Linked DNA regions of Homo sapiens. Changing the gene in region 2 together with the main gene of any one other region gives a genetic interaction. Each region holds a gene or a part of one and is shown on either strand. Other genes may lie near its edges.

The links. Genes that interact genetically often act in the same process or in processes that back each other up.
Region 1: of TWIST1 (region 2) and KAT2B, changing one suppresses a phenotype caused by changing the other (phenotypic suppression), as found in Homo sapiens cells (one study listed by BioGRID).

What each region holds. Positions count from the first base shown.
Region 1 is NC_000003.12:20,120,443-20,127,464, forward strand, and holds part of KAT2B (histone acetyltransferase KAT2B), read left to right. Parts: intron 1-2,225; coding exon 2,226-2,362; intron 2,363-5,462; coding exon 5,463-5,671; intron 5,672-6,980; coding exon 6,981-7,022. UniProt on the Homo sapiens protein: Functions as a histone acetyltransferase (HAT) to promote transcriptional activation. Has significant histone acetyltransferase activity with core histones (H3 and H4), and also with nucleosome core particles.
Region 2 is NC_000007.14:19,114,953-19,122,623, forward strand, and holds TWIST1 (twist-related protein 1), read right to left. Parts: upstream 2,685-7,671; 5' UTR 2,370-2,684; coding exon 1,761-2,369; 3' UTR 1,719-1,760; intron 1,180-1,718; 3' UTR 516-1,179; downstream 1-515. UniProt on the Homo sapiens protein: Acts as a transcriptional regulator. Inhibits myogenesis by sequestrating E proteins, inhibiting trans-activation by MEF2, and inhibiting DNA-binding by MYOD1 through physical interaction. This interaction probably involves the basic domains of both proteins.

The sequences.
Region 1 (7,022 bases), on a different chromosome or scaffold from region 2:
GTCTCAAACTCCTGACCTCAGGTAATCTACCTGTCTCGGCCTCCCAAAGTGCTGGGATTATAGGTGTGAGCCACCATACCCTGCTGACTTCTGCCTCATTCTGTCGTCCAAAGCAAGTCACGTAGTTGAACTCAGAGTTGAGAGGTGGAGAAGTGGAAAAAGGTAGTCTATTCCTTTCGTAGGAATAACTGCAAAGTCACATAGCAAAGAGTGTAGATACCAGGAGGGTAAAGAATTTGGCCATTAATGTAATCTACCACATGGGCAAAAATATCTCTTGAGCCTAGAAGCATTTCACAGTTAGAGAATGTTTTGAAGGTTGCATTTCTGTCCACAGACTTGACGTCAGACAAATCTTGGATGTGACCAAATTTTTAAATAAAAGAAGTACCATGAAAGAGGGAAAGAAGAGGACCTTATAATATAAGAAGTGCCATATATTTAGCATATGCCACCATTCCCTTTCACTTCCAAGGGAGATATCACTAATTCATGCAGAAACTCTTTACCAGTGAGCTTGGATTCAGCCTCAGACTTTTTAAAAAAAATCATAAACACCATTAGCAGTCTAACAAGCAGAGGGCATATCAAGTACAAACCCCAGCTACGAAATAAATAGTTTTCAGCATTACTCTTAGGGAATCATGGAATTTGAGGACTTATTGGTCAGATGTCTGAAAATATTGTTACTTGTCTCCAAAAACAAACAACAAAAAATTGTAAAAAAAAGAACTCGACAAAAGTGATTTAGTAAATAATATGTAATACTTCTGGAAGAATCGTCTACAGTCAAGTTACTTTATACTGTTCTGCTCCTTTTCAACTAGAGATAGTGAGAATGCTATGTGGAGAATGTTATATTGAGATAGCAGTGGGATTCACATGTGAGGAAATAAATTAGATCTAGACATCTTAAAAATTCAAAAAATTTACTTGTAAAAATAAATACATGTTATGTCTGGAAAAAACTGGAAAAACCAAACATGAGAATAGAAAGGAGAAAAAAACTACCATGCAATCTCATGAGGAAAGCGGAAGAAAGTTCTCTCTGCCTTTGCATGGCTCTCCTATTGTGTGGAATGGTGAGATTGCATCTACTTGATAGGCTAGTGGTCCTGCTCACTTTGTGAGGCATCATTTTAGGGCAAAAAAGCATTGTAAAAGATAAAGTGTGTCATTTTATAATAGAAAATTAAATCCATAAATTTGTTTATTAAAAATAATTTATGGTATATTTCAAATATATAGCTATATATACATAATATATATGCATACATACACATATGCATATGTGTGTGTGTGTGTGTGTGTGTGTGTGTGTGTGTGTGTGTGTGTGTGTGTATAGCCAAGCCCAGCACAGAGATTCCAATCAGTGGGTAGACTCATGAACAAGCCTGCCAAGATTGAATGAGATGAGCTGAAATCAGCCACCCATCAGGAAACATACGAAATGAATGAGCTATGATAGTAAGTTATTATGGTTTAAGACTCATTTGGGGTTGGTTTATTACATAGCAATAACTAACCAATAAAGCCCAAAGCCTAATGCAAACTGATTTCCGTACATATATGGTGGGGTGCCGGTGGGGGCGGGGTGGAATTAACATGACTACAAGGAGAAATAATCAAATCAACCAACGGTTGAGGCTTTAAACAAACAACTGAGTAATTCATAGGTCAAACAGACAAAAATATCAGTAAGGCTCTTACTGATATCCATACAACATGATCTGTAAGCTGAAGCTAATGGAGTTATAGAGATCAAAATATGAAAATACACATTCTTTCCAAGAAGACACTGCACATTTACAAAAGATTGGTCTTATTTTAGGTCATAAGGTAAAAATTTCAATCCATTTTGACGTTTTGGTGTCATATGGACCATGTTCTCTGACCTTGAAGAGACTATATTAGAGAGTACTAACAAACAATAGCTAGAATCACCCCTTTGCATTTGCAGATGAAGGAACATGTGCCTTAATATTTCATGTATCTAGTTAAAAATCATCATAGAAAGTAGAAAATATTCACAATGAATTGGGTTGGCAGTTATTGTGAGCTCACAATGGCTCTCTTTCCTGTCTTCCTTTGTCACCCCTTCCCCTGGTGGTAAAGATAGAGTTGACCTCCATGCCCATCAATGCTGTTAGAAAATTAGTTGGCGTGTATTATTTGTTTTGTGTTTAGAACCACCCATTGTTTGCCTTTTATTTTGATCATCATAGGAGAAAAGAGGAAAATGACTGATTCTCATGTTCTGGAGGAGGCCAAGAAACCCCGAGTTATGGGGGATATTCCGATGGAATTAATCAACGAGGTTATGTCTACCATCACGGACCCTGCAGCAATGCTTGGACCAGAGGTCAGCAGGGTAAACCTGGGCAGCCAGCTGGTAGACCTCTTCTGCTCTCCTGGCCACTCCAGCTGTCAGAAGTGGGGATGCTAATGCTGAGAGTTAACATGTTATGCTACCCTGGTTTGCATTTAACCTGGTGGTCAGTGTGGAGAGGGCAGGAACAACTGATCAAGAGGTAATTCCCCTTGATGAATATCACATCACAGGTCCACTTACTAATAATCTCACAGTTGAAGGCATCATTCCCAGCTTTTTATCTTGAAAAATTTCAAGCCCTCATAAATGTTGCAGAAATTCTGTAATAAAAATCCATAGACTCTTTACTGAGATTCAGCAGTTAACATTATGCCACATTTGCTACCTCTCTTTCTCTCTGCGCCTCCCCATATGCTCTTTTTCTTTCTCTCCCCACTCCCCATGAACCATTTGGAACCATTTCAGAATTAAAAACACATGTCATAATACTTCACCCCTAACTATTTTTGCATGTACTGTATCTCATAAGGAAGCTATTCTCTTACATAACCACAATGCAGTCATTACTCTTAGAAAATTTAGCCTGGTTACAATATTTTCTAATACAGGGTTGGTGAATTACAGCCTGCAAGCCAAATCTGCTCCACTGGCTGTTTTTTTCAAATAAAGTTTTATTGAAACATATTGTTTGCAGCTGTCTTTGCATTACAACAGTAAATTTGAATAATTGAGACAGGGAATGTGTGGCTTGCAAAGTATGAAATATTTATTATCTGGCTTTTCACTGAAAAGTTTGCTGACCTCTGGCCTAATATAAAACCGTATTTAAATTTCCCATATAGCCAGATGATGTCAGTTATAACCTTTGTTGTTGTTGAAGGATCAGTTAGGGATTGTGCATTGCATTTAATTCTTATCTCTTCATTTGTTTAGTCTCCTTTAAAACAACTCCCCAGCCTTGTTTTGGTCTTTTGCAGCACTGCCATTGGTGAAGAGTCTTGGTCGCTAGTTTTGTATAAGGTCCCTCTTTTTGGATTTGTTGATTGTTTACTAAGGATTAGATTCAAGTAAGGCATTTTTGGTAAAAATGCTGCTGTCATCTCATTGCCTTGCATCTGAGGGCATGCAAGGCAATGACATTTCTTAAGACATACCTGTCTTAAGACATTTCTGACAGCTTCCAGGAAATGAAGAAATGGCTTGGAGATTATATTACAGTGTTAATTTTCAATTTGTCATGTTTCTTTAAATATTTATTTTATGACATTGAGGATACTTCAGAGAACCAGAATGTTGTAATAGAAAAATCTCTTCCTAAAATTGATCTTTCCATTTCCTCCTAGATGTCCAGTCTGTGAGGGCTTAAGACTATAGTTTTTTAGGGATTTAGTAACATTACAGATTAGCTGAGTTTAGGTTTTTTTCAGCTATAAAATGGGGATTTGTACTAGTCTATTGCATTGCTACAAAGAAATACCTGAGACTGGGTAATTTATTTTTTTAAAAAAGAGCTTTAATTGGCTCACAGTTCCACAGACTGTACAAGAATGGCATCAGCATCTGCTCAGCTTCTGGGGAGGCCTCAGGGAACTTATACTCATGGTGCAGGGTGAAGTGGGAGCAGGCACATCACATGGTGAGAGAGGGAACAAGAGAGTGAGGAGGAGGAGCCAGACCCCTTTAAACCACCAAATCTCATATGAACTAACTGAGCAATAACTCATTCATCAACAAGGGGATGGTGCTAGGCCATTCATGAGGGGTCTGCCCTGATGATCCAACACTTCCCACTAGGCCCCACCTCCAACATTGGAGATTGCATTTCAGCATGAGATTTGGAGGGGTCACACATTCAAACTACATCAGGATGCAGTCACATGTTTGAAAATATTTTGGATATATTAATATTTAGTAGTGTACTAGAGCTGGCTTGTACTGGAATGCACAAGAAAATTGTTAAATTTTCAGGAGTTTTGTGAGCTGGTTGTTCCATATGTTGGTAGCTTGAAGTTGACTAGCATGGCACCTGGTTACCTGGATAGCCAGTTCTGGACTAATGAGATGAAGTGTCACCAGTTAGGGCCTTCCTTCCTTGAAGAGCTGTTTGTGGAGCATCTACTTGCAAACCACTAGGCAGATTAAATAAGATGGGGAGCATAAGTGCTGGCACATGGTTGTGCTTCCAGCTATGGTTGAGTGTAGGTCAACAGATATTCTCTGGAAAGAAAACTGTTCTTTAAAAAGAGGTGTTAAGAATATATACATGAGGCCGGGCGCGGTGGCTCAGCCTGTAATCCCAGCACTTTGGGAGGCCGAGGCGGGCAGATCACGAGGTCAGGAGATCGAGACCATCTTGGCTAACACGGTGAAACCCCGTCTCTACTAAAAAATACAAAAAATTAGCTGGGCGCCGTGGCAGGCTCCAGAGGCTGAGGCAGGAGAATGGCATGAACCCGGGAGGCGGAGCTTGCAGTGAGCTGAGATAGCGCCACTGCAGTCTGGCCTGGGCGAAAGAGCGAGACTCCGTCTCAGAAAAAAAAAAAAAAAAAAAGAATATATACATGAGTGCTACTATTGGGCCTGTAATGAGAATTTGAATCTGTCATCTCAAGGGTCCTTAAAGCTCAGCTGGAGAGGATTCCTTGAAGCCAGAGGTTGGCAAACTATAACCCACAGGCCACATTTTGTCTGCTTACTGTATTTTTAAATAAAGTTTTATTGGAACAGTACTGCACCCATTCTTTAACATATTGTCTGTGGATGCTTTTGCATTATAGCAGAAGAAGGAGTAGTTGTGACAAACACCTTATGGCTCACAACGTCTAAAATATTTTCTATCTGGCCCTTCACAGAAAACTTTGCTGGCCCCTAATCTACACTGAATATCATCCGTGTACACATATAATACTCCAATTTCTCAAAATGCTTTACCTGCCTTTTCTGTCTTGTCTTCATAACTTGTATGTGTATGTGTCTCTGTGTGTATGTGTGCACACATGTGTATTTAGGACTCTGAAAATCCACAAATGTGTATCTTATTAGAACAAAGATGAGAAGCTTGGATGTGTCCCATCCCCACTGTCTTGAGAGAATAGCTCTGTGTAATTTTTTCCTGTCTCTTGCATCTCAGACCAATTTTCTGTCAGCACACTCGGCCAGGGATGAGGCGGCAAGGTTGGAAGAGCGCAGGGGTGTAATTGAATTTCACGTGGTTGGCAATTCCCTCAACCAGAAACCAAACAAGAAGATCCTGATGTGGCTGGTTGGCCTACAGAACGTTTTCTCCCACCAGCTGCCCCGAATGCCAAAAGAATACATCACACGGCTCGTCTTTGACCCGTAAGTGGTACTTTCTGTTCCTTCTTCCTTATTTCCTTTTTAAATGAAAGAGGAACTGCTTAGATAGTGAAAGTCAGCCATAGTCATCCACCGAATACTACTGCACCTGTCTTGCTGTGGATACAGAGCTTCACCAAGCTGATTTTCATGTCTGAAAGTGCTAAGAGTAATTTTCAACAATTTACAAATTTTCTTGTTAATGATGATGAAACTTTATATTTTACATTGCTGATGACTCTCCTGTGCTTCATTCTTTATAGCAGTGAGAGAATGTAACACTAAGATGTTCTGCTTTCTTCATAATCAAAATATTGGTTTTGGTATCTTAACTAGGTGCCATTATTGCCCAGGTCTGTGGGCAATTATTGGGATATAAGACAGGTTAACTTTGAAAATCCATTGCTTAAAAAAAAAAAACAAAAAACTAGGCCGGGCATGGTGGCTCATGCCTGTAATCCCAGCATTTTGGGAGGCTGAGGTGGGAGGATCACCTGAGGTTGAGAGTTTGTGACCAGCCTGACCAACATGGAGAAACCCCGTCTCTACTAAAAATACAAAATTAGCCAGGCCTGGTGACACATGCCTGTAATCACGGCTACTTGGGAGGCTGAGGCAGGAGAATTGCTTGAACCCAGGAGGCGGAGGTTGTGGTGAGCCGAGACCGTGCCATTGCACTCCAGCCTGGGCAACAGAGCGAAACTCCATTTCAAAAAAAAAAAAAAAAAAACCCACGAAACCCTAAAGAACTAAACTTCTCTAATTGAATTTATTTTAACATACATAGCCCAGTAGCCTATGGGGACTGTGATCCATGCCTGTGACAATTCAGAGTGATGCTTTAGACAGAGGGAAGGATTCCATAATGCGGAATTTTGCAAATTGTATATGTAAATTTTAAATTCTTTTTCATAATGTTTCTGTAATATTTTGGAGTAAGACTTAACTCTTCAGAGACACATACCATGTTTGTCCATGACTTCCTGCTCTCCCTGACCCCTCCTTGGCACTGGCTGTGCCAGTTCCAGAGCACCTCTGCACATACTCTGTTCTCTATTTGTAAACCTCAGGCACTTCTTAGGTGACTGGTATTTTGTTCTGATGGGAGTGCTGATGACATCTTGTGCAGGCGACCTAGCTCTAAAAAGTTCAGATAAAAGGATGGTCTAGCGAGATAGGGGCTACATGAAGGAAGTTTCTATAGAAACTTAGGACATGTCCCTCTTTCTTAGTTGGTTAATAAGGAACACCCCAAAAAGTATATTTATATAACTAGGATAGGTAAAACTTTGACATAATCTTATTCTTTCAGGAAACACAAAACCCTTGCTTTAATTAAAGATGGCCGTGTTAT
Region 2 (7,671 bases):
ATGGAATTTTCTCTTTTCTGCTGATTTACACTTTATTTTCTATGCATTTCTGGTCATTTCTATATGTGTATAGATAATTTTCATAACACTATATATGTTTTCACTGAAAAGAACCTGTTATTTAGGAATCTTCACAAAGAGTGAAGAGCATGACAAAAAGTACATAATAAGAGAATAGTGCAGGTTTTATACTCCTTATTTGCATTTAACTGTTTTAACAACTATCACCTCAAAATAAAAAGGAGGTGAATAGCAAATTTGTTAAGTTTTTGCTGTTTGGAGACAGTAAGAGATGAAGAGATGCTACTAAGCCCTCTGAATACCAAACTGGAATAATAATAAAGCTGTCTTTTAAAATAACATGCTTGTGCCTGTCAGTAGCTGCTTTATTTGAGTTTTTCATTGCTTTGTTTATATTAGTGCCCCCTCCCTCCTGGGTGCCTCTAGAATTAAACAAGCAGGTATTTACCACCAACTTAATCTTTAGTTTTAAAAATATAGACCAAACTCTAAGGTTCTCTAAATTTTTTATATTTATTTATTGCAGAAAAATATACAAAGATATTTACAAAACAATCATAAAAATATGAATGCATTTAGACACCGGATCTATTTGCATTTTACCATGGGTCCTCAATAAATAAATAGAATGTTGTTTTTTGTATTTTAAGTTTTTTTTTGTTTTTCCCCTCAGAGGAAGGATGAAAAAAAGAATTAACTGACTATGGTTTTGCAGGCCAGTTTGATCCCAGTATTTTTATTTCTAAAGGTGTTCTTATAGTTCCTCTGATTGTTACCATTTTAAAATAGAGAAAGTCCATAGTGATGCCTTTCCTTTCAGTGGCTGATTGGCACGACCTCTTGAGAATGCATGCATGAAAAAAATAAAAATAAAAACATTCTTCGTCAAAAAAAAAAAAAAAAAAAACACAAACAACTGTTCAGACTTCTATCAGAATGCAGAGGTGTGAGGATGGTGCCGCTGCCCGTCTGGGAATCACTGTCCACGGGCCTGTCTCGCTTTCTCTTTTAAAAGTGCGCCCCACGCCCTGTTTCTTTGAATTTGGATTTTGCTCTTCTAATTTCCAAGAAAATCTTTGGCATATATTTTTATTTTTAGTTATCCAGCTCCAGAGTCTCTAGACTGTCCATTTTCTCCTTCTCTGGAAACAATGACATCTGCAAAAACCCAGAGGGGGGGGGGGGAGTCGGTTATTGTTTAGGTCTCTGCGGCTGTTTTCTAAGACTAGTGAGCACTGTTCTTATCACCACCACTGAGAAATTAAGCTGAACAACCTGGAAGGATTTCAGCCCAAGGGCAAGAGGAAGTGGGTGGGTGGAAAGGAGGAGGAGGTGGAATTTGTTTTAAAACATTTGTTTTAAGGAGAACAAAAATTGAAAGCCGAAAGAAAGGGTGGCGCTGACAAAACGGTCCTTACCCGTGACCCTGGGTGTCTCTGTCTCCCCTCCTGTCACGCACACTCACGCGCACACACACCCCTCACCAGGGCGCATCCCCCTGGAGACTGCTCTCCCTAGCGGGGTCAGACCGGCCTTCCGGGGACGCTGGGGGCGCGAGGCAACGGTGCCAAGTGAGGTGGGAAGGCTGAGCGGAGAGTGGGAGAGGGGAGGAAATCGAGGTGGACTGGGAACCGCGGCCTGGCCGGCCTGCCGTCTGCCACCTGAGAGGCGAAGGGGTGCAGCGGCGCGGTCCTTACCTAGGTCTCCGGCCCTGCTGAGGGGGTGGGGGGCTCCGCCTGCTAGTGGGACGCGGACATGGACCAGGCCCCCTCCATCCTCCAGACCGAGAAGGCGTAGCTGAGCCGCTCGTGAGCCACATAGCTGCAGCTTGCCATCTTGGAGTCCAGCTCGTCGCTCTGGAGGACCTGGTAGAGGAAGTCGATGTACCTGGCCGCCAGCTTGAGGGTCTGAATCTTGCTCAGCTTGTCCGAGGGCAGCGTGGGGATGATCTTCCGCAGCGCGGCGAACGCCTCGTTCAGCGACTGGGTGCGCTGGCGCTCCCGCACGTTGGCCATGACCCGCTGCGTCTGCAGCTCCTCGTAAGACTGCGGACTCCCGCCGCCGCTGCTGCTGCCGCCGCCGCCGCCCGCGCCGCCGCCGCCGCCACAGCCCGCAGACTTCTTGCCGCGCTTGCCCTGGGCCGGGCTGCCCGGCTCGTCGCCGCCTCCGACGCCCCCACCCGCGGCTCCGCCGGGCCCCGCGCCGCCGCCCGCGCTGCGCCTGCTGCTGCGCCGCTTGCGTCCCCCGCGCTTGCCGCTCGGCGGCTGCTGCCGGTCTGGCTCTTCCTCGCTGTTGCTCAGGCTGTCGTCGGCCGGCGAGACTGGCGAGCTGGACACGTCCTGCATCATCTCTCGAGCGGCGACGCGTGGCCTCGCGGGCCCGGGGCAGAGGAGAAGAGCGGGGCGCCTCAGCCCGCCAGCTTCCCCCGCGCGCGGCGCCGGCCCGGGCGATGCGGCCCGCGGAGGAGAGAGCAGGAGGACGGACGGGAGGGACCTCCGCGGGGAGGGCGCGCGGGGGAGGCGGGGAGGGAGGCGGGAGGGGGAGGGGACGGTGTGGATGGCCCCGAGGTCCAAAAAGAAAGCGCCCAACGGCTGGACGCACACCCCGCCAGGCCTCCTGGAAACGGTGCCGGTGCTGCAGAGCCCGCGAGGTGTCTGGGAGTTGGGCGAGAGCTGCAGACTTGGAGGCTCTTATACCTCCGTGCAGGCGGAAAGTTTGGGGGCAGCAGTGTCATTGGCCTGACGTGAGGAGGAGGGACTTTTCGAAGTTTTATAGGAAAGTTTCCGCTTTCCAGTCCCCCTCCCCCGTCCCACCTCCCTTCCTCGGGGTCTAACAATTCGTCCTCCCAAACCATTCAAAAACGACCTGGCCCGGGCGGCCGGCCCCTCCACCCGCCTCCTAGCCGCCCTCCCCCTTCCCTCCCCGTCGCCTTCCTCCGGCGGGCGCGGGGCGATTTCCTTCCCCGCCGGAGCGTGCGGGCAGCGCCCCCGAACCCTAGCGCAGCCCAGGAAGCGGTCGGAGGAGACTGTCCTGGCCGCGGTGGCAGCCCCATCCGGAGTGGCTGTGACAGCAGCAATGGCAACAGCTTCTACACAGTGGGTGATGTCTCATCTCGCCCAAGAGCCCTCTAGGTCCGTGGGGCCGATTTGGGATTGCTGGGGCTGGGGGGGTGGTGTGGCGCGGGGTGGGGGGGCATGCCAAGAAAAGTGTCAACCGCGGAGCCCACCCAATGGTCAGGTAGACGAACCCCTTGGAGTTCCAAAGGCCAAACCGCGGCGGCCCAGCCCGGAGGTCCTGGGCGTTTCTGAAGACGTGGCCGCGCCGCGGGGGCTGAGGATTTGCGTCCCGGCCTGCTCTCTCGCCCTTCTGGGCCCTCCTTTCCCCTCTACAACGACCCAGTCTGACGCTCCCCAACATCCAAAGGACTACGCCTCGGAAGGTGCTCGAAAGAGGCAGAAGTTCACTCTTCGGTGGAAGGAAACCCAGTCCATGGGAAAGGCAGCAGAGCCAGAGGGGGGCAGCGCAGCGCCTTTGCTGCGGCCCTAACAGCTGGCAATGCCAACCCAAGGGAGAGACCCTGTGGCCATTTCATCCCCACCCCCAAATTAGGCTCCGCATTGTGACCTTGAAAGGCCAGCTTGTAAGAGAGTGAAGTGGGAATTTGATAGCGCCTAGACATAGGGGCTGCCCGCTCTGAGACCCCCCCCGCCCCAGCCCCCACTATCTAGGGCATCCAGTGGACAATTAGGCTTCGTGAGCCCCAATTCCAAATGCTTGGATACGCTAACATTTTAAGCATTTCTGTCTGTAAGTTAAAACGAAGAGCCCCAAAGAGGGTGTTAATGTAGATCCTGGCAAACTGGAAGCAGCAAAGTTGGTGAACCAGAAAGGAAGTCGCCTTGGATAAGAAGCCCATCTTTTGCAATGCCATACTTGTTTCCTTTTTGAAATGAATTGAGGTAAAATAACCGTTTCAGGTCCATCCCTTACATGGCAAAGTAAAAAGCTGGAGTCAGTACACAGTGTTGGGGTGGGGGCAGCGTTTGGGGGCGACGAGTTTTGTGCACCGCGCTGGAGTACCCTGCACATAAGGTCCGCTCATGGGCTTCTCAGTACGGACTCGCCGGCGGGAACAATTAATTGAGCAAAGCGCCCCTTTCTGGGCTGGAGCAAGGTTCGCGGCTGCAGATATCTCAAGCTGAAGGCAAGAGCCCAGGCGAGGCGCAGGCAGGCCACGTGGCTGTTCCCTGCTGAGACTCGCAGCTTTGGTCTTGGAAACCTCAGGGTGTGGAGCTGCTTGGGCCGACTGAAGGGTTCAGCTTTTTGGGAGAAGTGAGGGCGAGTGTTATTTCTCCAGCGAGGTGTAAACAAGACTGTGCTTTCATGGGAGGGACAAATTGCAGAGTTGATCCCTTACCATTTTTACAGAAATACTCAGAAAGTGACTACAGCTTGTCAACTGGCCTGTTTAGTGAGCCGCTGCCTTACTGTAAAATTGTCTGAAAATCAGATTCGACTTGACCTCCACTTAATTTCAGTAGCACTCTAGCAGTTCTCAAAACAGTCACCCCTGCACCCTTGCGTTTGCATCTTCCGCTACAGGATTTTATCTCTTGGAAGCGCTTAGAGAATGCGGCAGAAATTCTGCCCCACTCTCCACCAAGTGTTCTTTTTGTAAATCTGAATTTACAGTATTCTGCAATTCTTATTTAGAACGTGGCTGCAGAAATCTCGAAACCTTTTCCACTTCAGCTATTTTTTTAAAGATAAATCTTATTTTTGTTTTGTTCTTTTTTTCTCTTTTCTCAAAAATAAATAAAGAGATCGAATGATTGGACTCTTTCCTTTGTGGCCACGGATAAGTAAGACAGGAAAGTGTGGGTAAAGTGTAAAGGAAATCTTACCTGACCAAGGGGAATTTGGGAAGGGGAGGGGAGCGGACAAGCTAGAGGAGAAACCAAGTCCACAGCAGCGCAGCAGCCAGGGGTCATTAGCCAGTCCATCTTGCAAAGTCATCAGTCTCAAAGACTGGTTCTTAAACAAGTGAGCCCAGCCCTTTTCCCGGCACTAAACTTCTAGCTGATGAAGAGCTCCTGGCCATTGGGTACAGGGATCCCCGCAAGGCTCAGGCGACGCTCTGATGCCAGAATACTGAGAGGGGAATTCAAAATGAACACCTAACCAGAACCATCCTGCCCATGGACTCTTTCAGCCACAGTCACAATTGATGACTAGTTCTAAGAAGAAATGGCTCTTGAACTGTTCCGGGGAGTGGAGGATGAGACGACTTTTGAGTTCTTAAGTGGGGCTTGAATGTTACTTTTGGAGCAAAAGTAGTCCAGGAGGTACCTCTCAAAAAATGGCTGGAGCTAGATACTCCCTGCTTTGCAAACTGCAACACGCCCTGGCTGACGAGTCCAGTCTGCTCATATACAGCTCTTTCTTATCTAACATTTTACCTAACAATTTTCTTTTCCACATTTGCAAGGATGGCTCCCTTTTTACTTGTTGACAGGTCAGGTATAATTCTGGATTCTCTTATATATGCAACAATAATTGCAACTTCTGCAATGTTTAGTTTAAATTTGAAAGCTTCTTTCTAAAATCCCAATCTTGAGATCATGAAAACAATCTTAGAAATTTTCTTTTGAGGCTGAAGTTAGCCTAACTGGAAGTATGTCAGTGGGGACTACCTTCTTTGGGAATGCTAGATTAACTGGAATTCAGTCATTTTGCCTCCTTCTAAAGTAAAGTCCTCCCCAAAAAAATTTAACTGAAAAAAAAAATTTCTTTTGTACTTGGATAGTTCAAAACGATCTTTGTTTTCAAACTGCAAACTTGGCATGTTTGCAATCCTGCCTGAGGAATGTGTGCTGTGTTAAAAATTGAAACAAAAAATACTGTTAAAAGTAACAGAGTTAGAAATCTCACATTGAACATATACAATAAGTATTAAGTATCCTGGCAGTTTGAATATGCTGTGACATTCTCTTAGCAACAACCAATTATAAATACTTTTAGATACGGAAAAGAAACACACACTATAGAATGGTTAGCCAACTGGTAAATTCTGGAGTTTGGGCTTGCATAAAAGGTGAGTACCTCAATCTGTTCCTACTCTTCTTTCTCCTCAGACCTTAGATGGCCTATCACCTGTTTGTTGGCTCCGAGTTCTGAGAAATAATTTATCTGAATTGCATAAATAGTGCACAGGAGCATTCGCACGGAAGGGAGTGAAAATTAGAAAGGCTGCAATTGAGTGAATATCAGATGAGGTTGTATATCTTAGATTTCATCTTGCTTTGAACACTCCAGAGGGACTGCTGTTTAAATGAGAGAATTTTAGTAAGGTGGAATATAAAGTCATGTATGTCAACACAATAACTGTGTAAAAGCTTATTCTTCTTTCATGACCCTGGTAGCCTTAATGATGTTTGAACACCTTTCCCTATATAAAAACTCATTCTCTTTCTCTTTAAATGATGATTTGATTCATAAACTCAACTGATTCTACATTTTTCTATCTGAATATCTTTAAAAGTAAAAAAAACAAACTAAAGTTATAAAATGTGAAGTTTTCAATCCAGAAATAAAACGAAAAAGTAAAAAACACAATAAATTAGGGTGCGAACAGTACCGCAAGTGAAATTTTCAAATAAATGTTAATCTTTAAAATAGCTGACATTCTGAACTCAGCTTAAGGATGGGATGAGGAGACATAGGTCTAACCTGTAGAAAGTGCAGGATCAGAATATGGAAAAGTATGGAGTCTTGAAGAGCATTTTTTTTTTTCATTTTTTTTTTCAGGGGTTGTGCAGGCTGGAGAGTTGGTGTCTTAGCTGCCCATTAACCTTGTTGGAAAACACACTCACTTCACTTGTATCAAAGAGTTGCTGGAATAACTGATGAAAGAATGCAAGAAATAAATAGTTATTCATAGGAACTATTATCATGGTCTCAGTCTTTCTACATAGCATTATGTGTCTTCTTTTTAATCATCCGATGACCAGTAATTTAAATATAAATGGAATGATTTACATTCTATGTTTTTTCAATTCAATTTCTCTTTCTGATTACTCATAACTTTCACCTTTCTTCACTGGAAGGGATTTCCGTTTTTCACAAATGGGTTTTCCTGAAGCCTTATGTCCTGCTGCTATTGTTTGGTTTGGTTCTTTCTGCAGAAAACATGTTGTTTTTGCCAGTCACCACAAGAGGACACAATTTCCCAGATAACTTTGTTTAGAAAGAAGCTCAGAGAAGAGGAAAGCTAACAAAACAGCAAAAATAACACACAATTAATGAATATCATTTGGAGATGTCTATTTGATTTATGCCATTTTTATTAATTAAAAAAACATGAGTTAGCATTCAAACTTTTGAAGATTTTATAATTTGTACTTTCTTAGAACATAAAGAAAATATACTAAATATACTAATGTAGTTAAGGGAAAATGTTTATTTTACGTTGACATAATTTTGTAGAAAACTCTTGGTGACTTTGAATTTTACTTAATTCCATGTTTGGCAATGAAAAACAGTTTATTTTTTTTTTCTAAAAGATTTTTCAAAATGCCATTAACAGTTTGAATTTCTACTTCAGGCATTTGGGTTGTCTTTACATTGAAAACTATATGAAAACTATGTTTT